Regions from separate parts of the Homo sapiens genome. Here all the other regions are linked to region 3. The links come from fine-mapping of genetic effects on gene expression. A gene starts in region 3. Each other region holds a variant in brackets. All regions are shown on one strand. Distances are between the middles of the regions.

The links.
Region 1: its variant is fine-mapped to the expression of PGAP3 in whole blood (INTERVAL, PIP above 0.99).
Region 2: its variant is fine-mapped to the expression of PGAP3 in whole blood (INTERVAL, PIP 0.92).
Region 4: its variant is fine-mapped to the expression of PGAP3 in whole blood (TOPMed, PIP above 0.99).

What each region holds. Positions count from the first base shown.
Region 1 is chr17:40,063,336-40,071,437 of GRCh38, reverse strand. All of the region lies in intron 1 of THRA (thyroid hormone receptor alpha), which reads right to left. Among named protein-coding and RNA genes, the nearest start is that of THRA, 4.4 kb to the right of the region's middle. RefSeq lists an enhancer at 1-540 and a silencer at 7,971-8,070. The variant GTTTTTC/C (reference allele first, on the strand shown) is at 4,747.
Region 2 is chr17:38,973,303-38,981,404 of GRCh38, reverse strand. No RefSeq gene overlaps it. Among named protein-coding and RNA genes, the nearest start is that of FBXO47, 10 kb to the right of the region's middle. The variant G/A (reference allele first, on the strand shown) is at 3,684.
Region 3 is chr17:39,684,147-39,692,248 of GRCh38, reverse strand. It overlaps PGAP3 (post-GPI attachment to proteins phospholipase 3), which reads left to right and starts at 4,192. Exons shown (of 8, transcript NM_033419.5): 1 at 4,192-4,415; 2 at 6,230-6,327; 3 at 7,500-7,652. The coding sequence starts at 4,235. It also overlaps a transcript of ERBB2 not described here. RefSeq lists a silencer at 2,819-3,113 and enhancers at 2,393-3,353, 4,064-4,173.
Region 4 is chr17:39,736,136-39,744,237 of GRCh38, reverse strand. GRB7 (growth factor receptor bound protein 7) reads right to left here and starts at 6,300. Exons shown (of 15, transcript NM_005310.5): 1 at 6,105-6,300; 2 at 1,782-1,986; 3 at 1,522-1,672; 4 at 1,184-1,340; 5 at 937-1,058; 6 at 768-845; 7 at 31-168. The coding sequence starts at 1,936. RefSeq lists enhancers at 2,247-2,844, 3,443-4,040. The variant T/C (reference allele first, on the strand shown) is at 4,516.

The sequences.
Region 1 (8,102 bases), 380 kb before region 3:
GCCATGGGGGGACAGGGACACGGGGCCAATGCGGCATCCACGGGCGCCCCGCCAGGTTCCCACTGCCGAGCCGTCCCACTCTGCAGTCCTGTATATCTGAGGACACCCCCAAAGGACTCCTGGGGCTGCCAGAGGGGAGTTTCTGTCCCCAGGATCTAACCCCCAATACTACCCGCATTAACCCTCCTGCGTATCTGCTCTGGGCTTTGGCCCCACCTTTCTGGGGCCCCTGAACTTTGTCCTTAGTGCTCTGAAGAAAGCCCAGCCCTCCTTGCCAGCCACAGGGACACGTACATGCGGGGCGGCTGAGAAAAGGGTGGAAAGATGGGAGGAGGGGTAAAAAGGCTGGTGGGGGAAAGAGGGAAGAAGGGAGGAGGGGGAAGAACAAAGAAATGGGACAGGGCTGGGGTAGAGCTAGGGGTGACAAGGCAGTAGAGGGAGAGGAAGAAAGGGGAGCCAGAGATGGGGGATGGGGAGAAGGGGTGAGGTAGAAAGGAGGACAGATAAAGGGAGGAGAGACACATGAAGGAGGGGAGACAAAGAGAGAAAGGTAACAAAGAAAGATGGGTGGGGGGCTTCGTACCCTGTCTAAGTCCCACCCCATGCAGGCTGGGGGGAGGGGGGCGTAGGAATGGTTTCCACGGTGACAGCTGGTTCTTGGTGGCCTGGCATGTGGGCTATTAATAGTTCTGTGGGTAGGTTCACACCTCCCTCTCCCCTTCCCCTCTGCCTGCTGCTAGGGTGGGGGGAGATCCCTCCCCCACCACCCACTCCTGATCACCCAGCCTCCCACCATGGGAGCCAGGAAGGGCGATGCTGAGGGGCCGGGGCGGCCACCGTGGCCCAGACACATAAATGGGCATGCATGGGCACAGGCGTCTATGGGCAGCACTGCCCCCCATGCCAACACGGGCACCACAGGCAGCCACCCACACCAAGGGCCCCTGGGAGTCTGTGGTGGTGGCAGTGCTGCAGCAGCGACATGTGCCCCCATGCTGAGGGGCAGAGGCCTCTCTAGGACCGGGACTCCCTGTCCTTTCCCATACCCCCTGTTCTATTCTCAGGTATGGATTGAGCAGGGCTGCCCCACCCAACTCTCTGTTATCCTAGTGCCAGGAAGGAGAGGAGGAGTGAAGGCGGGAAGGAAGGTACTATTTGGCAGGTGTGATGTGGCAGAGGAGTACACACAGACTCAGGGCCCCAGCCTGGCAGGCATGGGGGAGACGGGAGGAGGGGAGGCGGCACCCCTTGGTGAGCTCTCACTGGGCCCCCAGGAGACAGGTTCTGGAGCTGGGGGGCAGTGACTCATCACCTAGCCACTGTGGGACCTTAGAGGCTAGAGAATGGGAGATGGGGTGGGGATCCTCATAAGGGGGAGATTGGTTACTTAAACAAAGGATCCTCCCCACCCCGCCCCAAAAGAATATAACAGGAAACCCCCCCTGCAGGTCAGAGACAGAAAGACATAAACAGCAGCCTTGACTTGGGCCAGATGCCCAGTATTAACATCAAAGACTGCTTCCCACTCGGCTCCCCCATAGCCTCACCCACCTGCTGCTCTCCTCTCCCTCCTCCTGCCCGGGCCAGCTCCAGCCAGGCATCAAGGTGGGTGCCCAGGTCTGGAGGTCTCCTCCCAGGTCACATCCATCCCCCATGACCACTGGTGGGTGGTCATGCCCACACCCATGCTGGAGAACTCAGCCCCTCCTTATCAGCCCACAGAACTTCACGCCCCCCCTGCCCAATTCCCCTCAGGAATGGAGGCAGGAGATCCAAGTAGCCAAGAAAGCAGAAGCAGGAGCACCCCCAAGCTGGGCACGGCACATTCTCCCCACCCTCCCCCAGCAGCCAGCGGGTAATTGGAGCTGGGAGCTGGGGCAGCTGAATGCTGGAGGCATGAATGTCACGGGGCCAAGGCACTTGCTGCAGATGGCACCATGGGCACAAGGCTTGGGGTCCTCCCTCCTCACTCCCTCATCTAAGGCAGTAGAAGAAGTTGCCTGCAAGCCCTGAAGAGCATGGCCTAGGAGGGGAGGGAATGGTGGAGGGGGAAAGAAAGGGAGGGATGTTCTCCCAGGCACCCCAGAGGCTGGAGCTAGCCCCTAACCAAGCAGAACTGGCAGAGGCAGAGAGAGAGAGACAGAGACAGAGACAGAGAGACAGGGACAGAAAGGGAGGAGGGAGGGAATAGGAAGGAGGGAGGAAGGGGGAGGGAAGAGAGAAAGATTGAGAGTGTGTGTGTGAGAGAGAGAGAGGGAGGGAGAGAAGGAGGGAGAGACAGAGAGGGGGAGGGGGAGAGAGAGAGGGAGAGGGAAGAGGAAGGGAGGGAGGGAGAGAGAGAGGGAGGGAGAGAGGGAGGGAGAGAGCGCGCGCGTGAATGCAGCTGAGTCTCCGGCACACACACGGACACGTGCAGACACACACACTCACCCCGCATGCGCAGAGCCACAGGGCTCTGGGTACCGTTCCAGGAGATATTCAGAGCCCTCCCCAGCCCACACATGCACAAAAACACTCTCACATGGATGCGTGCACAACACACCCACTCACTGATGTGTACAAAAATGCCGAAAGACACCAAAGCCTCGGTTCCCCTGTTTCCCCACCCCCATGCCTGGTAAAAGAGAAAAAGAAACAGGCAGCTGGGGCTCTGGGAGCCAAGAGCCGATCTCTTCTTTAGAAGAGGAAAAGAGGAGGAGGAGGAGGTGGGCCAGGGGCTTGGTCCAATCATTCTGCTCTTGGCCACTGCTGAGGGGCATGGCTGAGGCTTTGGTATCAACCTTTAATGCCCACCCCCAAAACAGCGAAGCAAGGATAGTATTTCCTGGGCACCAGTAACACCCATCTTGCTTCCCTTGTCTACCCAGCAAACTTCTGACCCTCCCTCTGGACCACCTCACGCAATGGCATACCGGAGGGAGGTCCCTATGACCCCAGCTTTGGCCTGCCAAGTGACACCAAGGTGGAACCACATGTGCCCCCACCACACACCAGCCCCAGATACTTCAGTGAGAGACTGAGAACTGTCTCTGGTTCCAGGCAGCATGTGTATGCCCCACCCTGGCATGTGCCAGGCCCTGGGAAAAAAGGAGAATCCACAGGCATTGCTCACCATGCCAGGATGCAACATGGATTGAACACAGGGGTCATCCCACCTTGTGTTATTTGCCCTCAACCTGAGTGAGACAGGAACCATTGTCTCTAGATAATGAAAACCCAGGCCCAAAGTCATACGACTAGTGAATGTCAACAGCCAGGCCTCCCAACTCCCAGCCAGTGATCTTCCCACCACGGTCATGCTTGCCTCCCTCCCCAAGAGACACAACAGTTCTCCAAAGTCCCCTAGACACCTTTGCAGCCATGAGAACTAGAGTTGGGTTTTTTGTTTTGTTTTCTGTCTGTTTTGAGAGGATGTGTGTGTGGGGGGTCTCACTCTGTTGTTCAGGCTAGAGTGCAGTGGCACAATCACAGCTCACCGCAGCCTCGACCTTCCAGGCTTAAGCGATCCTCCGGCCTCAGCCTCCCAAGTAGCTGGTAACACAGGCATGCGCCACCACACCTGGCTAACTTTTTAAAGTTGTTTTTAGAGATGGGGTCTCACTATGTTGACCAGGCTGATCATGAACTACTGGCCTCAAGTGATCCTCCCGCCTTGGCCTCCCAAAATATTGAGATTACAGGCATGAGCCACTGTGCCCAGCCGAGAACTAGAGTTGAGATTGGTTCCCACTCCAAAGGCTTCCCGTCACCCCTACAGGGTATCCTCCCATTGTCCTTCCTTCACCTTGAGGGGCAGGGCTAAATAAAAGGGGTTTGGAGAGGGGATCCTGATCACCAGACTCACAAAGGCAAAGAGGCAACCCAGGACAGATGCTGGATCTCAAAGTGCTGTGCCCACCACACTGGTCATTACTCAGTGCTTCAGTTTCTCTCTGCCACCACCTTTCACACTAAGTACCACTCCATGGAGGGCAGGGGAATCTGGTGCCTATCAGCCAGAGCTGGGTCCTGGTTGACCAATGCTGGGCTCCCAGGAGGGAGGAAGGGCACTGCCTCCTCTTTGAGCCCACACATAAGAGAGGGGACGGCTTTCCTTGTTCTCTCTCTCCCACCCCCAGAGCTCAGACCCTGAACAGAGATGCAGTGATGCCCAAAGATTTATGCAGGTGCCCCTAGCTGGTGGGGTGTGTCCCAGGCTGAGGGGCCAAGGGCTCCTTGTAAGCTGAAGGGCGAGGGTCAAAGGAGGGTGGGGCAGAGGGGCCTGCCTTGGGCTCTTTCCCATACACTCATTCCAGGCTGCAAAAATTTGTCTGGGAGGAAAAGATTACATGACGGTGAGAAGGCTGGAAATTGGAGACCCACTGCCCCAGGCCCCAGTCTCACTGATGTCTAGGAGACCCAATTCTCCACGAAGCTTCTCTAAGAAATCTGGGAGACCCCAGGCCCACAGCTTCCTTCACCCATCACAACCGCTCACATATACAGTTTGTTATGAACTAGGCACTTTTAAAAACATTTTTCCTCAAAAAAGCTAAATGAGGTAGATATGATCATCCCCAATTTACAGATGAGGCAACGGGGAAGTTAAATCGCTTGCTCAAAGTCACACATCCAGCAAGTGACAGAGCTGGGATTCAGACCTAGGCAGTCCAGGTCAATCATGGCCGTCATGATCATCACCATCATCTCTGTTCTTAGCTGTGATGGTATATCACCTGCTTGATAGATAATGCCTTGTTCTTTTTT[GTTTTTC/C]TTTTTTTTTTTTTTTTTTTTTGAGACGGAGTCTCGCTCTGTCACCCAGTCTGTAGTGCAGTGGTACAATCTCAGCTCACTGCAACCTCCACCTCCTGGGTTCAAGCGATTCTCCTGCCTCAGCCTCCTGAGTAGCTGGGATTACAGGACCCCGCCACCACACCCAGCTAAGTTTTGTATTTTTAGTAGAGATGGGGTTTCACCATCTTGGTCAGACTGGTCTTGAACTCCTGACCTCAGGTGATCTGCCTGCCTCCGCCTCCCAGTGTGCTAGGATTACGGGTGTGAGCCACTGTGCCCGGCCCAATGCCTTGTTCTTTCATCCAGCTATGTGTTCCCTGAGACCAAGCCTCAGTCTTTCCCCTCTGTAGCTGCCCTGTGGGTTCTCTGCCAAGTGCCTCCACCTCCAAATAGTCCAAGGCTAGAGGGGAGCATAGCGAGAAGTGCTTGGTGCCCCCGGGCTCGATGTCTCCTGCCTGAGTTCCCCCTCCTCAAATTCCCTCTCCAGAAGAGGTACCCCTTCTAGGCTGGAACCTGCACTCACGGGTGGGAGGGCCTCGCTTAGTACATACTTAGTCTAGGCAGCTGTGCCCTCAGAACCAGGCCCTGAGGCTGGGCAAAAAGGACACAGCTGTTGGGCATCTCTGAGGTGGGCCTCAGCTGCCAGGGGTGTGGAGAAAGGCCATTGTGAGCCCTGCAGTGGACCCAACTCAGCAGGGTCCTGCCAGCTCCCGCCACTGCCCATGGGGGCGGTTCTTTTCCAGCTTGGGCCAGTGTGGGGGGAGCCTCTTCATGGCTTGTTTAAGAGCTGCTAGCTGGCTGCAGCCTGCACCCTGAGGGTGCCCACAGAACTGGTGTCTCCAGACATGCAGGCCCGAGGGGTCAGCATGGGCAGTGGCTGACCCCCCCCCCCTTCCCCCATTCCCAGCCCCTAAAACTTGCTGGCCACAGCTGCGGCACTAAGGAAGTGCAGGAAGTCCTGAGCAGCCAGCTGAGCCCCCCGCCCCCCACCCCAACCTCAAGCTGACCCCAGAGGCTGCGCAGGGGGGGCAGAGGGGCGGAGCTTGGGTATTAACAACTGGAAAAGTATGAAGAACATTGCTGCCAGTCCCCAGCTCTGAGACAAGGACAGGGGTAGATCGGGGGTAGCAACAGGGTGAGAGAGAGTTACAGACTGGCAGAGAAACAAGGAGAGAGAGAGGGAGAATCAGACACTGCAAGACAGAGCAACAGAGAGACAGAGTTAGAGAGAAATTCCAAGTCAAAAGTACATATCACTCACACAGACACTCGCCAGCCGATGGCCTCTTAAGGAAAGCTTCCAAGTTTGGACAGGAGGGTACAGGTGGGAAAAAGGGCCAGACTCAAGGTGGGGCGCAGGAACTCAGCTGGAAGTGACTGACTGTTCCCAGGAAAGACCCAGGCAAATGACTCAGAGCAGGGGCAGTTAGACACCCCTGAGCTTTTAGGGTAGGGAGGAGAGCAGCTCTCCCCTTCCCCAACAGTCAAGAGAATCCTAGCTTCTAGAAGTCACTGGACACTGCTTTGAGCCCATGACTCGGCCCTCTGGAACCCCCCTGAACCCACTGTCTTTGCTCTTGTTTCTCTGTCCCTCTAAAAGAAAGAAAGAAAAAAAAAACAGCCCATTCCCGCACAGTGGCTGAGCCTAGAGGAAAAAGGGGAGGAGGAAGCTGAAGGGGAAAAATTTGTGATTGTGTGCATCTAAGTGTGTGCTCGGCTGCACAGGCTGCAGTTGTGTGTATCTGGGGTTGTGTGGACACGACTGTTGGTGTGGACCTGCAACTGTGGGGACCTGGGCCTTGTGAACTCATTCTGCACCTGAGTTCAGGGGACCATGTGCAAATGAGTGCACCTGTGTCTGCAGGTTCCACAGTCAATCAACTAACAAGTATTTACAGAGCAGCCCTTGTGCTAGGCTCTGCGTGGGATCCAGAGCTCTTTAAGTGATTCTCCCAGGTCTCCAAGAGCTCACTGTCTAGTAGGGTGGTATCTCAAGCGATAGAGACCAAGAACATGTCATTGGGAATGCATGCTTTACACCATTACGCAGGAACACTTTTTCATACAGCCAAATTTAATATTCTTGGGAGCAAGGGTTTTGTTGCCTACAGAACCTCAGAGCTCCACAGTAAAGAGTCCAGGAAAATACTTGTTGCTAAGTTGTGTATACATGTGTTGGTGTGTAACTGTGTTTGCATCTGACTGAGTGACAGCGACTGTCACGGCAAGCAATGATGTCTGTGTGACTGGGCTCATGCGAGCACGTGTGTGCCTGTGAGTGACAGGGTCTTTTGTAATTGTGCTGCTGTGTGCAATTGCTCTGTGTGCATGCATGCATGTGACAGTGACTTTTTATGTGTGGGTGACAGCAACTCCTCCTTGCCCCAGTGTGTGACAGCATCTACGTGTGACCCTGTGCGTGGGTATGTGCATGGATCGGTCCCCATGCTCTTGGTCTCCCATGGGTATATCCCACCCCTCAGAGCTCCACGGTGCAGCAGCAGCCTGTCTCTTCCCTTGTCCCCATGTGGGTGTGTCCAGTAGCTCCTGTCCTTGAGTCTGCCTGGGTGTCCCTGGATGTGCATGTGGCTGTCTGTGTGGACATATCTCTGTGTCTGCGTGTCACTTTTGCTTCCCCCCTCATTTTGGACAACAGCCCCCTTCATCCCCTCCCCCTCCTGGAGCCAAAGCCAGCACTGAGGGGCAGGCTCCCACCTCACTGGCTTTCCTTCTGTGTCCCCCACCCCCACCCCTGGAACGGTGGTTCTTTCAATTGCCCCTGTCATCCCCCCAGGCCTTTCTTTCACGCTGGACAAGGGAGGGCCCCAGATGGAGAAGGGGCACCAGAGACACGTTGCAAGGGGAGGGAAACAAGGTGGGGTACACACACACAGGTCCATTTCTCCCTCTCCTCCCCAGCCAGCAACTCTCCTAATCATCTAGGCACCACCAAGTACACCCCTTCCACACACACATTCCCCCCCAACAACCGCGTTTTTGCAATTAGCAGTGTTGCAACCAGACAGCCATGCTCAACCGGGAGGCGGGTGAGGCGGGGGAACTTCCCTCTCCCCGGACCCGTGCAAGCCCACCCGCGCCACCGCACTCATACTGCCCTCCGCAGCTGGAGGCAGCTTTGCAAAGGCCACTCGGGCCTCAGAGGCTAGGGGTGGGGGCTGGGGGGGCAGGCCTCCGGCGCACCGTAAACAAACCGCGGCGCGGCGGGCGGGGGAGCTCCGGCGGCCGGCAACGGGGCCCGGCCCGGGAATGCGCAGCAGACTGGCCGGACAGAGGCCGGGCGGGCCCTCCAGGGGGAGGCTCGGACGCCA
Region 2 (8,102 bases), 710 kb after region 3:
CTCTACTAAAAATACAAAAATTAGCCGAGCGTGATGGTGGCGGTCGCCTATAATCCCAGCTACTCAGAAGGCTGAGGCAGGAGAATTGCTTGAACCCAGGAGGCAGAGGTTGCAGTGAGCCGAGATCGCGCCACCGCACTCCAGCCTGGGTGACAGAGCAAGACTCTGTCTCAAAAAAATACAAAACAAAACAAAAACTAACATGGGGCAGTGCACTTCTTTTGAAAGAAGTCAGGAAAAGATTTTGGGAAAATGAGGTAATGCTTACTCACGGCTGTGCTATTTGTCCCTCTGTCTCTTAATTTCCCAGACAAAACTATTAACTGGCTTAGATATCTGAATACACTTATTTATTGCCGTCTTTCAGTTTATAATGACACCCACTTAAAAATATCCAAAACTACTTTCCAACCCTTCTCTATCTCTTCCATTTGTGGTAAAATAATATACAACAGTGCATATTTTAAATATTTTTTCTAACGACACAAATAACATAGGCTGGGATAGAGATAGCTTAGAAAACCCAGAAATGCATAAAAGAAAAAAGAACTTGAACCTCCCTTAATCTTGCAGTGCAAAAATAACTACTGCTGACATATTAATAGTGTCACCATCCTTTCCAGTCTCTTATATACTTATATGTACATTTCCCTCATAAAATAGGATAATACAGCACATATGATTTTATAGTTGACTTTTTAAGATAGCACTTTCCCAGACAAAATTTGACATGATCCAGATGTAATTACACAAACTGGCTTCATGCCAGGATACTGGGGTGGAAAACCTTGGGAAAGGCTTTTACCTCCTTGGGCCTTGGTGCCCTTGTCTGAAAAATGAGGAATTTTTTTCCAACCCTAAAAACCATTCCTCTGCCAAAGCATGTTTTTGGATGAAATCTTGTCACCATGTCACATTCTCATGTGAGACGGCCCCAAGTGCCACATAGCCTTAGTTTGTACATTCTTTTATTTTTGGTTAGTATATATTTTTTTCTTTTCTTTTCTTGTTCTTTTTTTTTTTTTTTTTTGAAACAGGGTCTTGCTCTGCACGGTGTTGTGATCATAGCTCACTGCAGCCTTGACCCCCAAGCTCAAACAATCCTCCAGCCTCAGCCACCCAAGTAGCTGGGACTATAGGTGCGCACCACCACACCTAGCTAATTTTTGTAGAGATGGAGTTTCACCATGTTGCCCAGGCTGGTCTCTGAACTCCTGGACTCAAGTGATCTGCCCGCCTCCCAAATATACTGCTGGGCACTGTGGCTCATGCCTGTAATCCCAGCAGTACATTTTTTCTAACTACCCCATGCAAATCACTTGAATATGCCTTATTATGTTTGCTAGCAACTTTTATGATTCACCTGACTAGTCTTTAAAAATAACGAGTAAAAAGAAAATATTCTGCTGGGTGTGGTGGCTCATGCCTGTAATCCCAGCACTTTGGGAGGGTGAGGCAGGTGGATCACTTGAGGTCTGGAGTTCGAGACCAGCCTGGCCAACATGGTGAAACCCTGTCTGTACTAAAAATACAAAAATTAGCTGGGCATGGTGGCGCACACCTGTAGTCCCAGCTACTCAGGAGGCTGAGAAAGGAGAATCCTTGAACCCGGGAGGTGGAGGTTGCAGTGAGCCGAGATCGTGCCATTGCACTCCAACCTGGCTGGCAGAGTGAAACTCCGTCTCAAAAAAAAAAAAAGAAAGAAAAAAAAATCCGTCTTTTTAATAAAAACAAGGAGGACAGGCCGGCTGCAGTGGCTCACGCCTGTAATCCCAGGACTTTGGGAGGCCAAGGCAGGCGGATCACGAGGCCAGAAGACCGAGACCATCCTGGCTAACATGGTGAAACCCCATCTCTACTAAAAATACAAAAAATTAGCTGGGCGTGGTGGCGGGCGCCTGTAGTCCCAGCTACTCGGGAGGCTGAGGCAGGAGAATGGCGTGAACCTGGGAGGCTGAGTTTGCAGTGAGCCAAGATCGTGCCACTGCACTCCAGCCTGGGCAACAGAGTGAGACTCCATCCTCCGTCTCAAAAAAAAAAAAAACAAAAAAAACCAAGGAGGACAAAAGGGAAGTTAAAAACCCATCAATTGTTCAGCTTTACTCTTAGTATTTAAATAAGTAAATAAACGAAAGTATAGGATGAAGTCACTATATTTCAATTCAATTCAATTTAAACAAGTATAATTTTGTAGGAAAAAGAGATAACAAACTTAGGGACCAAAGTAAAGCAACATCAATAAAAGATGAGAAATATCTCAGGATGGAATAAGGTTTGGAAACTTGAAGCAAGTCAAGCTAGAAAGGAAACTACTTTGTCTAAAGAAGGGAAGTTAGAAGTAGATTTAATTGTTTTCAATTATATAAAAGACATAAGTCAATTATGTTTCTTCTCTATCAAGAACAACAGGAAATTGGTTTAGGTTGTTGTTAGATTAATGTAGACATTAAAAGGCTATTGATTAAGGAATGGGAAACAGAAGGTAAAATGTATGAAAAATGAAAAATGTGCTTACCTTTTACAGGGACTGCTGTCATACCCTGATATCTGCTCCTCCCTTCTTTTTTTTTTTTTTGTTTGGCACACAGTCTCACTCTGTTGCCCAGTCTGGAGTACGATGGCACAATCTCTGCGCACTGCAACCTCCACCTCCCAGGCTCACGCAATTCTGCCTCAGCCTCCCAAGTAGCTGGGATTATGGGTGCTCACCACCATGGCCAGCTAATTTTTGTATTTTTAGTAGAGACGGGGTTTCACCATGTTGGCCAGGCTGGTCTCAAACTCCTGACTTCAAATGATCCACCTGCCTTGGCCTCCCAAAGTGCTGGATTACAGGTGTGAGCCTCTGTGCCCTGCTCCTGTCTTCCTATATAATAGTAGAATCCGCTATTTTTTAGCTGGGCACAGGGCCTTCCAAAATATTTTCCCATTGGTAGTGACCATGTGACTAAGTTCTGGTCTTTGAAGTATATGTGTGTAGGGGTCCCTTCTTCCCCACTTCCTGCCGGCTGAGATGTGCACATGATGGCTTGAGCTTAAGCAGCCACCTTGGGCCATGAGGTGGAAGCCACAGGTTGAGGATGCGGCTCAACAAGATAGAAGGAGCCTGGGTTTCAGATGATTGTGGAGCTGTCACACCACTCCTGACTGCTTATCCGAGGACTTTATGTGAGAAAAATAAGCTTCTATCTTGTTTAAAGTACTGTAATCTGGGATTTTCTGTCACTTGCCTATGATAATTTTAAGCAACATATTCTTTTTCCTTTTAATATTTGGTTTATTAGACTTACACATTAAAATCCAAGTTTTCCCTTATGCTTCCAAATTCAGGTTAAAAATCTTAATATTCTATTTATGAATCTAATAAATTTTAACAACCACGTTTAGTGGACTTTGAGCCTATTTAGACCTATTTACAATCACATCTCCAAATATTTTAAATTGTATTTGTCTAAAAACTGCATTTTTTTTGTTTGTTTTTGAGACAGGGTCTCACTCTGTCACCCAGGCTAGAGTGCAGTGACATGATCATGGCTCACTGCAACCTCTGCTTCCTGGACTTAAGTAATCCTCCCACCTCAGCCTCCCCAATAGCTGGGACCACAGGCACATGCCATCATGCCTGGCTAAATTTTTGTATCCTTTGTGGAGATGATTTTTTTTTCAAATATATATATGTGTGT[G/A]TGTGTGTGTGTGTGTATATATATATATATATACACACACACACACACACACATATATATACACACACATATATACACATATATATACACACATATATGTATATATATACACATATATATACACACATATATGTATATATATACACATATATATACACACATATATGTATATATATACACATATATACACACATATATGTATATATATACACACATATATGTATATATATATACACATATATATACACACATATATGTATATATATACACATATATATGTATATATATATATTTTTTTTTAATTGAGACAGAGTCTCTCTACATTGCCCAGGGTGGTCTCAAACTCCTGGGCTCAAGAGATCTTCCCTCCTCAGCCTCCCAAAGTGCTGGGACTACAGGCATGAGCCAATGAGACCAGACTTTTTTTTTTTTTTTTTTTGAGACAGGTTCTCACTCTGTCACCCAGGCTGGAGAGTGCCGTGGAGCAATCTAAGCTCACTGCAGCCTCCACCTCCTGGCCTCAAGCCATTCTCTCACATCAACCTCCTGAATAGCTGGGACTACAGGCACGTGGTAATTTTTTTTTGGAGATGGAGTTTTGCTCTTGTTGCCCAGGCTAGAGTGCAATGGTGCCATCTCAGCTCACCGCAATCTCCACCTCCTGGGTTCAAGCGATTCTCCTGTCTCAGCCTCCCGAGTAGCTGGGATTACAGGCGTGCACCACCAGGACCGACTAATATTTTTTAATCTTTTGTAGAGACAGGGGTCTCACCACATTGCCCAAGCTGGTCTCAAACTCCTGGACTCAAGTGATCCACCTGCCTCATCCTCCCAAAGTGCTAGGGTTACAGGTGTGAGCCACTGCACCAGCCAAAACTGCATTTTTATATGTACTCTCTTTTTTATTTATTTATTTTTTATTTAATTTTTATCCTAGTTAACAGATATAATCTCTTTTTTAAAATGCTTTTTTTTTTTTTTTTTTTGAGGCTGGAGTGCAGTGGCGCGATCTCAGCTCACTGAAGCCTCCACCTCCCAGGTTCAAGCAATTCTCCTGCCTCAGCCTCCCGAGTAGCTGGGATTACAGGCGTGCGCCACCATGCCTGGCTAATTTTTTTTTTTTTTTTTTTTTTTTTAGTAGGAATGGGGTTTCACCATGTTGGTCAGGCTGGTCTCGAACTCCTGACCTCATGTAATCTGCCCACTTCAGCCTCCCAAAGTGCTGGGATTACAGATGTGAGCCATCACACCCGGCCTTAAATGCATTTTTAATTGTGGTAAAATACATGTAAAATTTACCACCTTAACTATTTCCACATGTACAGTTCAGTGGTATTAAATACATTCATAATGTTGTGCAACCATCACCACATCCTGTCTCCAGAAACTGAAATTCTGTACCCATTAAACAGTAACTCTGGACGGGCACAGTGGCTCACGCCTATAATTCCAACACTTTGGGAGGCTGAGATGGGTGGATCACCTGAAGTCAGGAGTTTGAGACCAGCGTGGCCAACATGGTAAAAGCCCGTCTCTACTAAAAATATAAAATTAGCTGGGCGTGGTGTCAGGCACCTGTAATTCCAGCTACTCAGGAGGCTGAAGCAGGAGAATCACTTGAACCCAGGAGGCGGAGGTTGCAGTGTGCTTGAGATTGCACCACTGCACTCCAGCCTGGGCAATAGAGTGAGACTTCATCTCAAAAAAAAAAAAAAAAAGTAACTCTCCACTGCCCTCTCCCTCCAGGCCGAGGCAATCACCATTCTACTTTCTGTGTCTATGATTTTGACTACTCTAACTTCCTCATAAAAATTGAATCCTGGGCCGGGCGCAGTGGCTCACGCCTGTAATCCCAGCACTTTGGGAGGCCGAGGCAGGCGGATCACGAGGTCAGGAGATCGAGACCATCCTGGCTAACATGGTGAAACCCCGTCTCTACTAACAATACAAAAAATTAGCCGGGCGCGGTGGCAGGCGCCTGTAGTCCCAGCTACTCGGGAGGCTGAGGCAGGAGAATGGCGTGAACCCGGGAGGCGGGGCTTGCAGTGACCTGAGATAGCGCCACTGCAGTCCGGCCTGGGCAAAAGAGCGAGACTCTGTCTCAAAAAAAAATTGAATCCTGGCCGGGCACGGTGGCTTACACCTGTAATCCCAGCACTTTGGGAAGCCGAGGCAGGTAGATCACCTGAGGTCAGGAGTTCGAGACCAGCCTGGCCAACATGGTGAAACCGGGCATGGTAGCATGTTCCTGTAGTCACAGCTACTCAGGAGGCATTTAGCAGGGCATGGTGGCATGTACCTGTAGTCCCAGCTACTCGGAGGGTGAGGCCAGAGAATTGCTGGAACCCAGAAGGCAGGGGTTGCAGTGAGCCCAGATCATGCCTGGGCGACAGAGCAAGGCTCCATTTCAAAAAATATATATACATATATTTTTTTTTTCTTAAAACCAGAAATAGGATGATGATGATGATGACAATGATGATAATTAAGAGCCATTGGGATGATCTCTCAGTTCTTCGAAGGCTATACATTTCGAAAGGTAATTTTATAAATGCAGAGTAGCAAGAATAGTACCAAGAGCATTTCTTATTCCTGAATCCTTTGGGGAAAAAAATTTTTTTTTAAATTAACTTTTGAAAGTTTATCCTAAAAGAGTATACAAAATGATTATTGCAGCATTGTTTAAAAAGAAAAAAATTAGATGGTTGCTCACGCCTGTAATCCCAGCACTTTGGGAGGCCCAGGCAGGCGTATCACTTGAGGTCAGGAGTTCGAGACCAGCCTGGACAACATGGTGAAACCTCGTCTCTACTAAAAATACAAAAATTAGCCAGTCACAGTGGCATGCGCCTATAATCCCAGCTACTCAGGAAGCTGAGGCAGAAGAATCGCTTGAACCCGGGATGCGGAGTTTGCAGTGAGCCAAGATCGTGCCACTGCACTCCAGCCCAGGCAATAGAGTGACACTTGGTCTCAAAAAAAAAAAAAAAAGGCAAAAATTGGAAACAATCTAATAATGATGCAGAACCAATTAAACAAATTTGTATGATATATCTTTATGGTGAAATGCTATGTAGCTAGTAAAAATGAAAAATGATGATATGTATGTATATTTCTTGGCCAGGAAAGAGTCCTTTAGGAAGGAAATATACTAAAGTGTTATCAGCAGTTACCTCCTGGTAGAAATATTGGATTGATATGGGGAGAATAGAGAGACTTGTGTGTAATTTTTATATTTTTCTGCAGTGAACACTGATTTCTTGTGGGAATTTCAAAGTAATTTGCTTTCTTTCTTTCTTTTTTTTTTTTTAAGAGAGAGACAGGGTCTCACTCTGATGCCCAGGCTGGAGTGCAGTGGCTCAATCACAGCTAACTGCAACCTCAAACTCTTGGACTCAAGTGGTCCTTCTGCCTCAGCCTCCCAAGTAGCTGGGACTACAGGCATGAGCCACCATGCCCAGATTATTATTGTTTGTTTGTTTGTTTGTTTGTTTTTTAATTTTGTAGAAACAGAGTCTTGCCATGTTACCCAGGCTGGTCTTGAACTCCTGGCAATAATCCCACCTCAGCCTCCCAAAGTGCTAGGGTTATAGGCATAAGCCACCATGCCCAGCCTAAATTAATAATTTTATGAAAAAATCTAGGCCGGGCATTGTGGCTCATGCCTGTAATCCCAGCACTTTGGGAGGCCAACGCAGGTGGATCATTTGAGCTCAGGAGTTCCAAATCAGCCTGACCTACATGATGAAACCCCATCTTTACTAAAAATACAAAAATTAGCAGCTGGGCTTGGTGGCGCATAACTGTAATCCCAGCTACTTGGGAGGCTGAAGCAGGAGAATCTCTTGAAACCCAGAGGTGGAGGTTGCAGTGGGACGAGATTGTACCACTGCACTCCAGCCTGGGCGACAGAGCAATATTCCATCCCCTCCCCACCGAAAAAATATTGTTTCAGTCAAAGGAATCTGTGGAATCTCCTTCCCTGGAGTTTTTTTTTGTTTGTTTTTGGGGGTTTTTTTGAGACAGAGTCTCACGCTGTTGCCCAGGCTAGAGTGCAGTGGTGCAATGTTGGCTCACTGCAACCTCCACCTCCCAGGTTCAAGCAATTCTCCTGCCTCAGCCTCCCAAGTAGCAGGGACTAGAGATGCGCACCAGTACACCTGGCTAATTTTTGTATTTTCAGTACAGACAGCGTTTCATCACGTTGGCCAGGCTGGTCTCAAACTCCTGACTTCAAGTGATCCACCCGCCTTGGCCTCCCAAAGTGCTGGGATTACAGGCATGAGCCACCGCGCCCAGCCTCCCTGGAGTTTTTATAGAATGTTACAGGTAACCAGCTGTTTTTAAATAATTTAGGCTAGCCCTCTTCCTACTCTGCAATTTACAGATGAAGATATAATCTTATCACACAGCACCAGA
Region 3 (8,102 bases):
GGTACTGTATATAAGTGTATAGGTGTACATACACATGCATACACACACACATATTTTGTTCTGCACTGTGCACTTGATACTTATCAAAAATATTTGGCCAGGTGTGATGGCTCATGCCTATAATCCCAGCACTTTGGGAGGCTGAGACAGGTGGATCACCTGAGGTCGGGAGTTCAAGACAGCCTTACCAACATGGTGAAGCCCTGTCTCTACTAAAAAATACAAAAATTAGCCGGATGTGGTGGCACACACCTGTAATCCCAGCTACTCGGGAGGCTGAGACACAAGAGATATATATATATATATATATATATGTATATGTATATGTATATGTATATGTATATATATCTATATCTATATCTATATCTATATCTATATCTATCATGAAGGTTTTACCATGCTAGTACATTACAAATCTGCCCCATTCCTATTAATTTCTGTTCAGCCTTCCATTGTATGGCTCTCCCTCCATTAATATAATTCATTCCCTATTGATGGACATTTAGTTGTTTCCTTTTTCTTCTTGCTATTGAAAACAATGACTAATGCTACCACAAATAACTGTACTTAAACAAATTTGCACTTGTTTAGGTATACTGGAGCTTATGTAGGTATACCTAGGAGTGAAATTCCTGGGTTAGAGGGTATGTGTGTGTGTGTGTGTGTGTGTGTGTATATATATATATATATATTTTTTTTTTTAATGTAGATGGAGTCTCGCTCTGTCACCAGGCTGGAGTGCAGTGGCATAATCCAGGCTCACTGCAACCTCCAACTCCCTGGTTCAAGCAATTCTCCTGCCTCAGCTTCCGGAGTAGCTGGGATTACAGGCACGTGCCACCATGCCCAGCTAATTTTTTTGTATTTTTAGTAGAGATGGGGTTTCACCATGTTGGCTAGGATGGTCTCGATCTCCTGATCTCATGATCCGCCTGCCTTGGCCTCCCACAGTGCTGGGATTACAGATGTGAGCCACCGCACCTGGCTTCAGTCTTTTGTTTGACACTTGTTTATGGCCTGTTTCCCTCCTCTGACCATGAAAAGTACAGTGCCTTGTTCATCACTCTGTTCCCAGAGACTTGCACATGGTAAACTTAATAAACATTTGATGAATAAGGAACCCACATTGTAGACTCTCTACCAATTTTGATCTAAGAACATGGTCAGCTTGCCGTTGAGCCTTTAGCACACTATACTTTTTTTTTTTTTTTTGAAACGGAGTTTTGCTCTTGTTGCCCAGGCTGGAGTGCAATGGCACGATCTCAGGAGTTTCTCCATGTTAGGTCAGGCTGGTCTCGAACTCCTGACCTCAGATGATCCACCTGCCTCGCCCTCCCAAAGTGCTGGGATTACAGGCATGAGCCACTGTGCCTGTCCAGCACACTCTACTATTAACATATGCTTTGTCTTTTTTTTCCCCCATGAGTACAATGGCTGATACACAGGAGGACTCAATAAGCCTGAGTTGAAGGAATGAATTAGTGACTTTTCAGACTGTGGATCACATCTGAAGCCAAATACAAGTTAGGAAGAAGGACAAGCTAAGGAGGCTCAGGGGAGAACTAGGGGCTCCAGGCTAGAAAGTTGGGAAGAGAGGCCAGGTAATCGCCATCTAGAGATTGTTATCTGGGGCTGTGCTGGCAGGGAAATTCTCAAGAGCTGTCCCAGAGAGACAGTACCCCATCTTCCAAGAAGTCAACAGAACAGAAGTCTCTACTCCCACTTCCACCATTAACCTAGGATTGCTTTTTCCATCAGGTATGTAGGCATGGGTTTTCAAGGACCTCTGAAATACTTTAGACCCGAACAAATTTCCATTGTTAGTTCTAAAATATAAGAAAGCTGCGAAAATTAATATTTTATGGCCGTGTGGCATGGCTCACGCCCGTAATCCCAGCACTTTGGGAGGTTGAGGCGGGAGGATCACTCGAGCCCAGGAATTGGAGACCAGTCTAGGCAACATAGCAAGACCGTGTCTCTACAAAAAATTAAAAAAATTAGCAGGGCATAGTGGCGCATGCTGCAGTCCCAGCTACTCAGGAGGCTGAGATGGAAGGATCACTTGAGTCTGGGAGGTTGAGGTTGCAGTGAGTCGTGATCATGCCACTGCACTTCAGTCTAGGTGAAAGAGTGAGAGGCTGTCTGGGAAAAAAAATTTTTTTTAACTAAATGTATATAAATGTAGCAATATGTCAACTATTAACAGCAATTAGATTGAATTATATATATGTATAGTTATTTATAAATCTTATTTAATGTGGGGCGTTACTGCATTTCAGTATGTTTGACATAATATAGGATGAGGCCTTCAAAATTGGAATTTTCTTTTTCTTTTTTTTTTTTTTTTTGAGTTTCGCTCTTGTTGCCCAGGCTGGAGTGCGATGGCGCAATCTTGGCTCACCACAACCTCTGCCTCCCTGGGTTCAAGCGATTCTCCTGCCTCAGCCTCCTGAGTAGCTGGGATTACAGGCATGCACCACCACACCCAACTAATTTTGTATTTTTAGTAGAGATGGGGTTTCTCCATGTTGGTCAGGCTGGTCTCAAACTCCTAACCTCAGGTGATCCGTCCGCCTCGGCCTCCCAAAGTGCTGGGATTACAGGCGTGAGCCACCACCCCCAGCCTTACTTAGGAATTTTCTAAAGGGGAGACTCCCTATTTTGTCAGGATTTCATCCTCTTTAATCCTAAATGTCCATCTTTATATGAGGATCCTCATAAAAAGACTCATCCCAGAGTCACAGAAAGGACAAAATGAAATGAAAAAAGAAAAAAAAACAGTATTGTAAAAGAACTAATCTGTAAGATGCAAAGTAGTATTAGCACTGGATTTCCGGTCAGCTCCTGGAGGGCTAAGGGGTTGTTTTGTTCATTTCAGCTTCTCAGTCAGTATCAGTTGGGTGGTCAACTCCAGGGGACACTATTCATGTTATATTTAACTGGAAGAATTTGCCATTCACAGAAAAGGCAATGTGAATGCTGCTCCCCAGAGCACCATTCACAGAAAATGCAATGTGAATGGTGCCTCCTGGAGATTTTGCCTTGCTTAGCAAGGTGCTAGAGCTAAGGACTCAGAAATGTTTGTTAAGTGAGTGAATGGAATCCCAGGCTACTTCTTACTCATTCCAACCCCCAGGACGAAAAAGAAAAGTTGACAAGGGGTGAGGAGAGTGGGGGAGGAGAAAGGGTGATCCTTAGCTACAAGGCTTCTATGAGATTGGGTGTGGGTCGGTGCTGATGGGAGTGCAGGGGAGGTGAGCAGGGAGAGGATACTAAAGCAAGCGTCCTGTTCCCAGGGTTCCTAATTTTCCTAGAAATATTACTTCTCTCCGATCTCAGTGCAGAACCATACTGATGATTTTACAGCCCTGGATTTGTCAAGTTCTTATGTTGATGTATGCTGTTCATTCATTAAACAGAAGAACAAACAAACGCAGTTAGCGCCTACCATAAGCCAAATTCTGTGCTGGAGGTAGAGTGGTGAACAGGACAGCAAAGGTTCTACCCCGCATGGGGAAGCAATCACCCTCGGGAGGTGGTACTTCAATTGCGACTAGAAGAAAAAAGAAGAGTGAGTGATTCAGACCAGGCCAGGCAGTCAGGAAGCTTGAGGGACATAGCCCTCTGAAGCGGGTCTGGAGCAAGGGAGTGAGGGAGACCAGTGGACAGGGGCCAAATCAGGCAGGGTTTGTGGAGACTGTATTTTACCCAAGGTAATTGGGAGCCAGTAAATAATTTTAAGAAAAAAAAAGTGATATGGGCAAATTTTAATTTTTCAAAATGGAGCGCAGGTTGGAAGAGGCAAAAGTAGAGGCAGGGAGAGCCATTAAGAAGCTACTGCGGCTGTCTTGGCGACACATGATGGTGTCTTTAACCAGGGTGGTGCCAGAAGAGATGGAGAGAAGTGGATAGTTACAGGTACGTTTAGGAAGTAAAATCCGACAGGGGTGGTGACAGTAAACAGCCCTACCTCAAAAAAGATCATGGAAAACACTTCAGTTTGCTCATTAACCCATCAGGCGTCCGCCTTCCCTTAACCCTATCGCCTCGATATATGGACACAGCAGGGGGACGAGGGGCGGGGCAGGCGCCCACAAAAATCCGGGAACTTTAATTTAAACTGTGTGGACTTCAGCGGAGAGTAGAATAAAGAACACAGGAACTTCCGGTTACTCCGGAAGTGGAAGCTTCATACTCCTAAGCTCCTCCCCCGGCGGCGAGCCAGGGAGAAAGGATGGCCGGCCTGGCGGCGCGGTTGGTCCTGCTAGCTGGGGCAGCGGCGCTGGCGAGCGGCTCCCAGGGCGACCGTGAGCCGGTGTACCGCGACTGCGTACTGCAGTGCGAAGAGCAGAACTGCTCTGGGGGCGCTCTGAATCACTTCCGCTCCCGCCAGCCAATCTACATGAGTCTAGCAGGTAAGCCCCACCCCCACGGTAAGCCCCGCCCATTTGTCTTGCTCCCGCCCCCTGCGCCCCCAATACGCCTCTGCAATCCCTGAACCTTAGTTTCCCCACGAGGTCTCTTATGAATGTGAGTGAAGCCCCTAAGGTGATGAGAGCCTTACCAGCCTCTCTTACTTTCCCAGAAGCTTTCATTTACTTATTTGTTCAGTCAAAAGGGTATTTATTAAATACATTCGGGCCACAATGTCTAGGAATGGCACAGAAATCAGACCAGGGTCCCGCCCATTGGGACTCACAGTCCCCACGGGGACATGAGCCTTTTCAAGTGCAAGGCAGAGAATGATTTGAGCCCCTGAAAGACTCTTTGATTAGGAAGCATTTGGGATAGGAAGGTGTCAGTTCCGGCTTTGAAGACGTGGGGGCAGGGATCATCTTGGAACGTTTTGTTTGAAGGAGGGACTTTGGACTGGTACATTCGATTTGGACCATAGTGGGCAAAGAACCAACGTATTGAGCACTCACTGTGTGACAGGTGTCACAATATGTCAAGTAATTTTTATCACACCCTTTGAGATAGTTTCTCTAATCCCAGTTTTACAGATGGGGATTAGAGAGATTAAATGCCCTGCCCAAGGTCACACAGCCAGTATGTAGTAAAGTGGAGTTTCCAGTTCTGGCCTGTTTGACCACAAGCTTGTCCTCTTTACTATTATACCACTTTGCATTCCAGACAGAGGGAACAGAGAGAATGGATGCCCTGGGCAGATGTGGGCACATCCAGGAGCTTTATTTACTCAGGGAGCAGGGTACATGAACAGGAGTAGTGACCAATACGGTTGGAAAGGCAATTTGGAGCCTCAAAAGTCAGGTTGAAGAATTTGGGCTTCATTTTCATAGGAAGGGAGTAAGATAGCAAGAACTCCTTCCAGGAGAGTAAGAGCAAATCCTATATTCAGGAAGGACAAATATAAACCCAGGTTTCCATAGATGAGTTCATCAGATGCCAACATCTTGATGGACTTGAGCAAAAGGAGAGGAAATGTCTGCCAAGGTAGAAAGATCATCTGAGCCCTGGAGTTCAAGACTAGCCTAGGCAACATGACAAGATGCCTTCTCTACAAAAAATAAAAGAATTAGCCAGACATTGTGGTCTCGCTACTTGGGAGGCTGAGGTGGGAGGATCGTTTGAGCCCAGGAGGTCAAGGCTGTGGTGAGCCATGCTCTCCCCACTGCACTCCAGCCTGGATGAAAGAGCGAGACCCTGTCTCAAAAAAAAAAAAAAAAAAAAAATGCCGGGTGCGGTGGCTCGTGCCTGCAATCCCCGCACTTTAGGTGGCAGAGGCAGGCAGATAACCTGAGGTTGGGAGTTCAAGACCACCCTGACCAACATGGAGAAACCCCATCTCTACTAAAAATACAAAATTAGTTGGGTGTGGTGGTGCATGCCTGTAATCCCAGCTACTCGGGAGCCTGAGGCAGGAGAATCGCTTGAACCCAGGAGGCGGAGGTTGCAGTGAACCGAGATCGCACCATTGCACTCCAGCCTGGGCAACAAAAACAAAACTGTCTCAAAAAAACAAACAAAAAAAAGACGAATATCTCTAATTGCTCACTAAAATATGCATACATACGTACATACACCTTCCCCTATGTGTACATCTCATCATCTCTCATTCATTCAAAGGGGAAGCTAGAATTTTGAGATTTCTCCTGGTTCTCTCCAACTTACAGGCCCTCTTGGCCTACATTTGCGCTTGGACCCCATTCATGCTCTCTCTTTCCTCTCTGTGCTGGGGAGTTCACCAGGCCACATTTGTCTGTTTCAGGCTGGACCTGTCGGGACGACTGTAAGTATGAGTGTATGTGGGTCACCGTTGGGCTCTACCTCCAGGAAGGTCACAAAGTGCCTCAGTTCCATGGCAAGGTGAGTTGGAGGGTCAGGGTAGGCATATGGTAGTAGCGTGGTAGGAGTAATATACCCCCTGGTTGGACCACACTGTCCAAGCAGTCTGAGGCATGGGGTAATGCGTGTGTGTTTGGGGCAGCTACCTGTTCTCCCCAAAATCTGCTGGTTTCCATAGAATTGGATAGGACCCATGTGTCCTGCCTCTGGATTTGGAGTAGCAATATCTGGAAGGCTTTGGAGTCTCCCCAGAGAGTGGTGCTGGGCCTCTTAGAGTGGTTGAGATGCCCACCTTACTGCAGGGACAAATTCCCTTACCTACTGTGGCTTGTTTCCTGTTGCTTCTCCAGTAGGGGTCTGGATTCACAGTAATATGCTTCAGCTTGTCTAGCGAGGCACAGTTTGCTGGTACCTTTCTTTCTTTTGTTTTTTGTTTTTTGTTTTTTTTTTTGAGATGGAGTCTCCCTCTGTCGCCCAGGCTGGAGTGCAGTGGCATGATCTTGGCTCACTGCAACCTCTACCTCCCAGGTTCAAGCAATTCTCATGCCTGAGCCTCCCAAGTAGCTGGGACTACAGGTGTGTGCCACCACACCCAGCTAATTTTTTGTATTTTTTTTTTTTTTTTTTTAAGTAGAGATGGGGTTTCACCATGTTAGCCAGGATGGTCTCAATCTCCTGACCTTGTGACCCTCTCGCCTCAGCTTCCCAAAGTGCTGGGATTACAGGCGTGAGCCACCGCGCCTGGCCTGCTGGTACGTTTCAATCCAGTATTATCTCATTCTGGCCTGTTGAGGTTGGCAGGAAGTATTCACCCCAGTTTTTCACAGAGTAAGCTGAGGCTCAAAGGACCGTGGTCAGTGGTAGAGGAGGGGTTGGGACCTGTGTCTTCTGGATGGCAACTCTGTGCTGTTTCCACCAGGCCATACTGAGTCATCTACCCTGACCCATCTGGTCTTCCCAGAGATCAGGGCTTACAGTGCTGTGCCTGCTGGCCAGGATGGGGGTATAACTCTTAACTAGGCACTGGAGGGTGGCTCATTAGTCTGAAGAGGTACTGAACCTGAGGCTTTGGCCAAACTCCAGAGCTGAGGACTCAGCTGAGGACCTGTTGCTTCAGCATGTCAAGAATAGGTGGACTGGGCCAGTTGAGGGTTGCCTGCCCTTCAAACCTCCTTCATCTGCTCCTTTTTCAGTGGCCCTTCTCCCGGTTCCTGTTCTTTCAAGAGCCGGCATCGGCCGTGGCCTCGTTTCTCAATGGCCTGGCCAGCCTGGTGATGCTCTGCCGCTACCGCACCTTCGTGCCAGCCTCCTCCCCCATGTACCACACCTGTGTGGCCTTCGCCTGGGTAGGTAACCTAGCAGGACTCCTGCTGTCTCCTCTTATCTAGGAAGGTGGAGCTCTACATCCCTATTAACACCCAACAGGGCTTCTACTTACCAGCTTCCCCTCTGTTTCCCAGGGCTAAAGTTGCAGCTGCAGGGTGGTAAAGCCTGGGGAGAAAACAGGGAGGGTGCTGAATCGGGCCTTACCTTTCCAGCAGAGCCCTAGGTCAGGCTGTTTGGGAAGGAGAGAGGAAAGAAGGGCATTTTTCTTGTCCTGAAGAAGGAAGCCACTAAAAGACCCAGTAGGACAGTTTACAAACACAGAGGGGAGATGGGGGGCTAAAGAGGATGCTGGGACCACAGGTCTTTCCAAGGGCCCTTCTGGAGGACTTGGAGCAATCTCAATTCCAGCCCAGGCCTGGTGGGGAGTCACAGCCATAGTCTCTGTGTAGAGCTCAGCCTAGTCTTTTTTT
Region 4 (8,102 bases), 52 kb before region 3:
GGGCTGGGGCTGGTACCCTCAAGACCTTACCTTAGAGGTGCCCTTGGTGGAGTAATAGAGGCCAGATCGGCGCAAGAAGCAGAAAAAGCGTTTCCAAAGCTTCCGTCCTGAACCCCGCAGCTGCAGAAAGCCCTGGATCTCAGGAAAGCTGCCAGCATTCAGGAAGTTCTGAGCCAGAGGAGAGCAGAGGAGAGTGACAGGTCTGACCTCCTCCCTTCCCCTCTACCACCAGGATGTTTCTCTTTTTCTTTTTCTTTTTGAGACAGGGTCTCATGCTAGTGCGGTGGCACGATCACAGCTCACTGCAACCTCGACCTCCCGAGCTCAAGTGATCCTCCCACCTCAGCCTCCCAAGCACCTGGGACTACAGGCTCATGCCACCATTCCTGGCCTTTTTTTTTTTTTTTTTTTTTTTTTTGGAGAGACGAGGTCTCATTATGTTGCCCAGGCTGGTCTCAAACTCTCAAACTTCTAGGCTTAAGTAATCCTCCCGCCTCAGCCTCCCAAAGTGCTGGGATTATAGGCATGAGCCACCGTGCCCAGCCCACCCTCAGGTTTTTACAAGGAAATGCTCCACATGCATTTCTCGCCCCCATTTAATAGAAGAAACTGATGCTCAGGCAGGGAAAGTGACTGTCCCCAGTCACACAGGACTGTGATTTGGCTCTTTCTACAACATAGAGGGGAGGCACAGGACTTAAGGGTGGAGAAGCACTGGCCAATGCTGGGGAGTCGTGAATCTGCAGTGAAATGGGGGGTCCCCCCACCTGGATGAGGTCTTCATGGGATATACCAGTGTGTGCATCGAGACAGCTGGAGACCATTTTTTCTGGGAACAGGGAGTGCTGTGGGTAGACAAGTGTCAGGGATCAGGGCTCCAGCATCCAGGTTGAGGATCAGGGCATCCCAGCGCCCAGACAGCCCTCATGCACTCACTGGGGAGCTCTTGAACAGTTCGTACTTGGCGAAGTTTTTCCGGAAGACGAAGCGGCTATCTCCGCCCACGGGCCAGGCAGCCTGCACTTCCACCACGGACTCGTGGTCCTCCAAACCCCGCTCTGGGGACAAGGGCAAAAAGCAGGGGTTATTGGAGATCAACCAGATCTCCTGGATGAGCCACATGCCTAGCCCAAGATGCAAGGCATCATCTCCCAGCCCGGATAGTTCCATGCACCTGACTTACCCAGTGCTAGGTGGGGGTGGCACTCCACCAGCCCCCAGGTCTCGTCGCTCAAGGCGTGAGCTCGCTGCACCAGCATTTCACACACGTGGCGAGCTGTGGCACCTGCTGCCACCTCCACAGACCTGCAGGCCCCATCCTCACTGTACACCTTTACTACCTGCGCCCCAGGAATTGCACACGACTTGAGGGGAGGCAAAGGGTGATTCATTCCCTTTCCGCACCTGCTAGACCCTCAGGGACTCCTAACCAAGATCCCCTGCCTCCATGGAAGCGGCTGTGTATCTCCCACAGACCCAGAACCCGTGCATCCCTCCCTTCCCTTCTGAGGGACAACTCACATGGGGGCGGCTGGCATCGCGGGGGAGCAGCCCCCTTGCACTGGAGGGGCCCCCGAGAATTGGGCTCTGTGAGGGAGGACTGCAGAGCTCAGGGAAGGGGTTGGGGATAGAGGGGAGGGAGGTGGCACGCCTCTCCTCCTCTCGAAGTTTCCTGTGGCAAGAAGAAAAAGGGAGAGAGGTGTGGGGAAGGGAGCAGTGGCCTGCAAGCCTCTGTGTATTATCCAGCACTGACCTCCCCCAAGCCCCACGCCCCATCGTACCTGCCGGTGGTTGGGATGAGGAGAGGCTGGGACCTCTTTACCTCCTCAGGCAGAGGGGTATCAGGGGGCCGGGGAGTCCCAGGAGGGGTCCCAGGGGCTGGGCAAAGGTCTTCCGGAGAGCTGCTAAGATGAGGTGGAGACAGATCCAGCTCCATGGCGTCTGAGCAAGAGAGGGGCTTAACGGAACCAGTTGTGTGCCCTTGTCCTGGGGAGAGGGGATGAGAGAATTCAGACCTCCTGACCTCACACGGCGGTTAGGGTGCCCCTCAGAGTTTACCTAGCACCTCACTGCTCTAACTGGAGTTTCCCTGAAGCCCTTGGGGAAGGACAGAATGAGCCTCATTTTACAAAAGGGGACACCGAGTCTCTGAGAAGAAAGCATTCTTGCCCTCAGTCACAGGTGAGTCGGGAGTAGAACCTGTGTTTAGACTCCAAGTCCAGTGCTCTTTCTGTTTTTTTTCTCCTTTTTTTTTTTTTTTTTTGCAGCGGCGTCATCTCCACTCACTGCAACCTCCACCTCCTGGGTTCAAGTAATTCTCGTGCCTTAACCTCCCGAGTAACTGGGATTACAGGTGCCCACCACCACGCCCGTCTAATTTTTGTATTTTTAGTAGAGACAGGGTTTCACCATGTTGGCCAGGCTGGTCTTGAACTCCTGATCCGCCCGCCTTGGCCTCCCAAAGTGCTGGGATTACAGGCGTAAGCCACCACGCCCGGCTCCAGTGCTCTTTCTTTAGCACAAAGTTGCTCACAGGAAGAGCTGAGGGTCCACCCACCACAAGCCTGGTGGTCACAACAGATTTCACAACCCACAGACTCTCAGGCTCAGCCCTCAGGGTCAGGGCAAAGGCCCACTCCTTTGCCTCCACGTGTGGGGCACTCACTGCGCTGGGCTGTGCCCCGGGTTTTTCCAGCACTTTGTTGCCAGACCCAGTTGCCAGAGCCTGTTCATACTTGGCGAGGTTTGGCCTGCCCAAGTGATGAGTGATGCAGAGGGGAGAAGGAGGTGGGGAAGGATGGGAGTCAGAAAGGCAGGAGAGCGGGCTCCGCTGCAGTGCAAGGGGGAGAGCAGGGCCTGGGGTAGGGGTCCTGGCCCCAGCAGCCCCCAAACCTTGCGTACCCTCCCCAGGCCATCCTCCTGCCCAACTCTTTCCTGAAGCCCCAGTGCTAGAGCCACCTCCTCTGAGAAGCCTTCCTGGCCTTCCACATTCAGACTGAATGACTCTCTCTCAGCACTGTGCGGGGGCCGCATCATCCATTACTGTGCACCTGTCCTATCCACCCATTTGTCTGAGGGCACCTGGTACCCCCAGGCAAGGCCAATCTCACCCATGTCTTATCACTTATAGGGGCTGCACAGACACTCAAGACAAGTAAAGACAGGACAGCAGGCAAAGACGAGCACTAGAGGTGGAGGTGGGGCTGGCACCTTCTCCGCAGGAACCCAGCAGACCCCTTTGGCCGGGCTGAGACCTGGGAGAACCTGCAATCCCAGCCCCCAGCCTGTTCTCCAAACACTGGGCCAGTACTATGAGGCCACCTGGGGCACCTGGGATTGACCCCTCAGGAGGGAGCAGGCACCTGACCCTTCAGTGAGGGCATCAGGGGATTTGGGGGACAGGTGAGTCAGGGCGGGCGGGACAACACTGCCTAGGGCTCTCCATTCAACCTTGACTCATCCACACAACTTCCTGGCTTAGGAGAAACAAAAACAGCCCTGCCTCCACCCTTCCCCCAACTCCCCAACCCACTGCTAGCCAGAGCGGAATGGGGGAGGCACGGGGCTGGGAACAGGATGGGGGAGGAGGATGTGGGCCTGAGGCTCCTGACATCACCTCCTCCTCCCCACCCTCGGCCTAGCTCCAGGCCAGGTGGGACCTACGATCTGCTCTCACCCCCAGTCCCAAACCACCTCCTCGCCAGGGAGTCCCTCGCCTGGGAAGGAGAGAGGCAATGCCCGGCCTGGATTCAGAGGCCCATTTGGAGAGAAGCCAGCATCCCGGCGGTGCCCCTCCCCACCCAAAGCATCGCTCAGAGCCCCTGCCCTGTGTGGATGAAGTTCCTCCTGACACATTCTCCTGGGTGTCCCGGCCAGAGGGGTACCACAGGAGCAGGAGTGGAAAGGGAAAACACTCAAGAAGACAGACAGGATGAAAGGCCAGGGAGGGGGCTCAGGGTCCTGCCAGGAGGGGCACGACACACCCATCACCCGCTAGCAAGAGACACCAGCACCTCAATACCAGAACACAATCCCCCACTCCCACCCCAGTCTAACCTCCAAACAGCCCCGGTCTCCAAACAGCCCCAGTGACTTCATTCCAGGCTGCAGGGGGCCACGCCTGCCTCGAAATCACAGACCAACAGTGGGGTGGGGAGAGGAGCAGAGAATTCGGGAGGGCAGTGCTTGGAAGGGGTTAGAAGTAGATTCAAATCACATTAGAGCCTGGCCTCAGAGATCAGAGAGGGCCAGTCCAAGGCTGGGGTTTGCCTTCAGAGCCCCCCAGCCGTGCCCTTAAGCTTCTAAGGCTGGAGGCGGGTGGAATCGTCAAGACCAATGGGGTGAGCAGGGAGGAGGAAGGGGTCCTGGCTGTGGGCCTGGCAGCTTAGAGATCTGGAGTTTTCAAACTGAGGCCCCGGTAAAGCTTCGGTTGGAAACACCGACCCCCAAAATCAGTTTGTCCCCTCAACGAGGTAACTCCGTCCGTGGCTTCCCAGCTGCCTCCTCCCCCAGTGG[T/C]TCCAGCCCCACCCGCGTTCCCGTCCTCCCAACCTCCTTGTTTACTTCCTGAATCACGCCCCACCTGGCTGGCCCTAAGGGCAGGTGGCGGGGCCCGGTGTTCAGGGCCAACAGAAAACAACTCTGCTTCCCAGAGCAGGGGGAAGGGCTTGCGGGACTGAGGCCTGGGCCAGGGGCCTGGATGTGGCGGGAGAGCCCCCGTCCGCCCAGTACTCCACGCCCCGCCCCCACGGGAGAGGCTTATAATTTTTTAGGGTGCAGGGCCCAGGTGAGAAGGTGAGAAACCCCTGGATGACTCCTAGTATAAGGGAGGACCCAGGACTCTGAGGCCCCGCCCACTCTCACTCAGGAAAAATACCCAATGGGAGAAGGCGGGGCAGCTCTTTTAAAGTTTAATTCGGGAAGAATGCTGGAGTGTCTCTGCAGTTAATCATTACAGGCTGCCCGCCTCCATGAGGTCCCCCCACCAAGCATACAGTAGGATATCAGGAGAGGGGAGAGCAGAGTCCAAGACCGGCGGACCAAAAGAGGGCATTCCTGGGGGGCGGTGCGGCTAGTTGGGGGGCGGGGTGGGGGGCGTTCCACCTTGCCGGCAGATGCATTCATTCTCTGTCCTCAATCTGCCAGGGAGACCCAGACCGGGAACCTGGGTCTCTCCCTAGCCTCATCAAGCAGAAGAAACCATCTGCTATCCCCCACCCCACTCTCCCCAGGCCCCACCGCACTGCAGAGCCCCTCATACACCCCTCCAGCCTTCCTGCCCATTTCATGCTGAAGCCAGGAGGGACCCCGTCTCACCCGGCCTCCACTTTCCCATCGGAGGGCCGGAGGCGGTGTTGCTGAGAAGGGCATACAATCTGGAGAGATGAAGCCTCGACAATTTAGAGGATCCCTCTCCTTCACTGCCCTCCAAAGTGGAGGGGGCCCTCCCCACATCTCCCCGCAGCCCGCAGAGACGTCTGTCTTAGAGACTTGGGGAAACCCAAACTGGGGTAAACTGGGCGAGCCAGAGAGTGAGGGCGGCTCTCCCCGGGTGTGCGGGGAGGGGCTAGTTTCAGCGGGAAAGCCAAGTCGGAGGAGAGAATCAGGTCTTCCTTCCCATTCTCAGCTGCTGCCTGCAGGGAGGTGTACAGGGAGGGAACAAGGAGCGCTGGAAACCAGGATGGGGACGAAAAGAGGGCGGGTGGGGAGGAGGGGGCAGGGTGGGAAATGGACAGAAAAGAGAAAAGTGGGAGGCCAAGCAACCCATCAGGAGACCCAGCCTTTCCCTACCGGCCTCCAGACCGGCCGTGCCTGCCCCCAAAGGATAAATGCCCGCTTGGGTTCTTACCTGAACCCCGAGCGTCAGGACACCCGGCTGGGACCACGTCTTCAGGGAGGGAGACGCCAGGCCCTTAACTACCTGTCCCCCTCCAGCCCCCGCCCCTGGCCTGACATCACCGAGCGGGGGAGGGGGAGAGCCAGGTGGCTCCAATCCTCCCACCTGGGCCGCCGGCCAGTTCAGCCGGAGACTGGCACAGCCTGGGGCCCTGGTGCGGCTGGGGGTTGCCTGGCAGGCTGTCGTCTGAGACCGATCTCGGTCCCCTTACCTGGAGGAGCCCCAGCAGGAGTAGCAGGACACCCGTTCCGAAGTCTGGCTCCGTCTAGGAACCCCCAGATTCCTGGATTTTATTTCAGATCCACTCCCGCTTCTCTACAGGTGGTAGGAGGGTGTCCCGACTTCGGACAGAGAAGTCAGAGGCGGGGGGGAGCCCTGTGTGTCCAGATTCCAGGCCCAAGGAAACTAAAATTATCTTGGGCAGATGGGGGCGGGTCCAGGGGAGGCGCCTGGGAGGAGGAAACCTGGGAGGAGGGCGGAGACTCCCTGACTACGCCAACTGGGATTGTTTTTGCCCTTCCTAGCCTGGCAGCAGGTGCCAAGGGAGGATGCAGGTGCCTGGGGAGAGGCGGGGAAGACAGCCGAACAGACAGTACCACGAGCGAAGATCAAGAGTCCCGACCACCTGGGAGGGAGGGGGGAGGGCCTGGGGGCTGCAAGGTAAGGGGAACCACCCCATCCACTCTTTTCCAACACCCTCCCCGAACCTGGTCTGTTCATTGGCCAAGCCTGGGGGCCTGTCTGCAGCTCTGGATCCCACCCCATGGGGCAAAGAGCACCCTGCCGAGAGGGACGCCAGCCAGGGTGGTGTCCAGCAACATGGCCTGCCCCTCGATCTGCAGTCACCCTTACCGTGGTGGCTGCGCCCTGGCCCCTCAGAGGTACCCAGGGTAAGCCCTCCCTCCCCCGCCCCCCACCTTCTGAGCAAAGTCCAGAGTCTTGGCTTCTCCTTTAAAATCGAGGGGGTTAGGCAGGGTGGCACAGTGGGAGGAGCCATGGTGACCTGGAGAAAGCTCTGGCCTGGGCCCCTGGGGATTCCTCTTAGAGGGATCACTTTATTTTATTTTTTTTTGAGCCAGAGTCCCGCTCTGTCACCCAGGCTGGAGTGTAGTGGTGCCATCTTGGCGCACTGCAAACTCTGCCTCCCAGGTTCAAGCAATTCTCCTACCTCAGCCTCCGGAGTAGCTGGGATTACAGGCGCCTGCCACCACACCCAGCTAATTTTTGTATTTTTAGTAAAGATGGGGTTTCTCCATGTTAACCAAGTTGGTCTTGAACTCCTGACCTCAGGTGATCTGCCCACCTCGGCCTCCCAAAGTGTTAGGATTACAGGCATAAGCCACCACGCCCGGCCTGAGGGAACACTTTAGTTCTCTCAGGGATCACTTTAGCTGTCTCATTCAGTGCTGGGCAAACACAGGGTACTTGGGAGAGGGGTTAGGAGGTGGAGATCAAAGGCTGCGGCCACCACCCAGCTTGATGTGGGTGACAGGAAAACAAACAATCCTTAGGGTGATAAGAGGTCCACCCTGGAAGGGGCACGAATGAGTGGCTCCTGCCTCAATTTTCTCCAGAGTTTTCCTAGGAAAACCGGTATGAGTGGGCCCAGCAAAGAAGTGGGGGAGGAGGCAAGGTCTCTTTGGTGATGGAGCAGCTTGTGCAAAGGCAGAGTAGACAATTCACTCATTCATTTATTCAACTATCTGTTTAGTACCTACCATATGCCAGCCCCATGTTTTGTGCTGGGGATACAGGCGTAAACAACAAAAACAGACCCCGCCCATCCTCACACAGCCAATCAGGAAGATTGATGTTAACCAAAGAATCACACAAATAAGAAATGACAGGAGACAACTATGCTGGGAAAATGACTCACATAGGGAGTCAGGAAAGACTTCTCAGTGGAGGTGACAGCTGAGCAGAGGAGAAGCTGGCTGACATGGGAAGGGGGTTGGAATCGGTGGATGGGAATTGGGGAAGGAGGCCACTTTCCCCAGTGAGGAAATCAATGCCAGAGCTCTGGGCAGGAGGAGATGCAGCATGCGGAGACAGAGAGTGGGGTTGGAGGAGAAGGGAGGAAGCAGAGGCCACGTGGGTGAACCTGGACAGGTGTGGAAGGTGTGGAGAGAGGAAGCTGTGCTTCTGCAAATGTGGCCTCTAGACCTCCCTAACCTTGTGTGGAAAATAGATTCTTGGGCTCCTCTCCAGC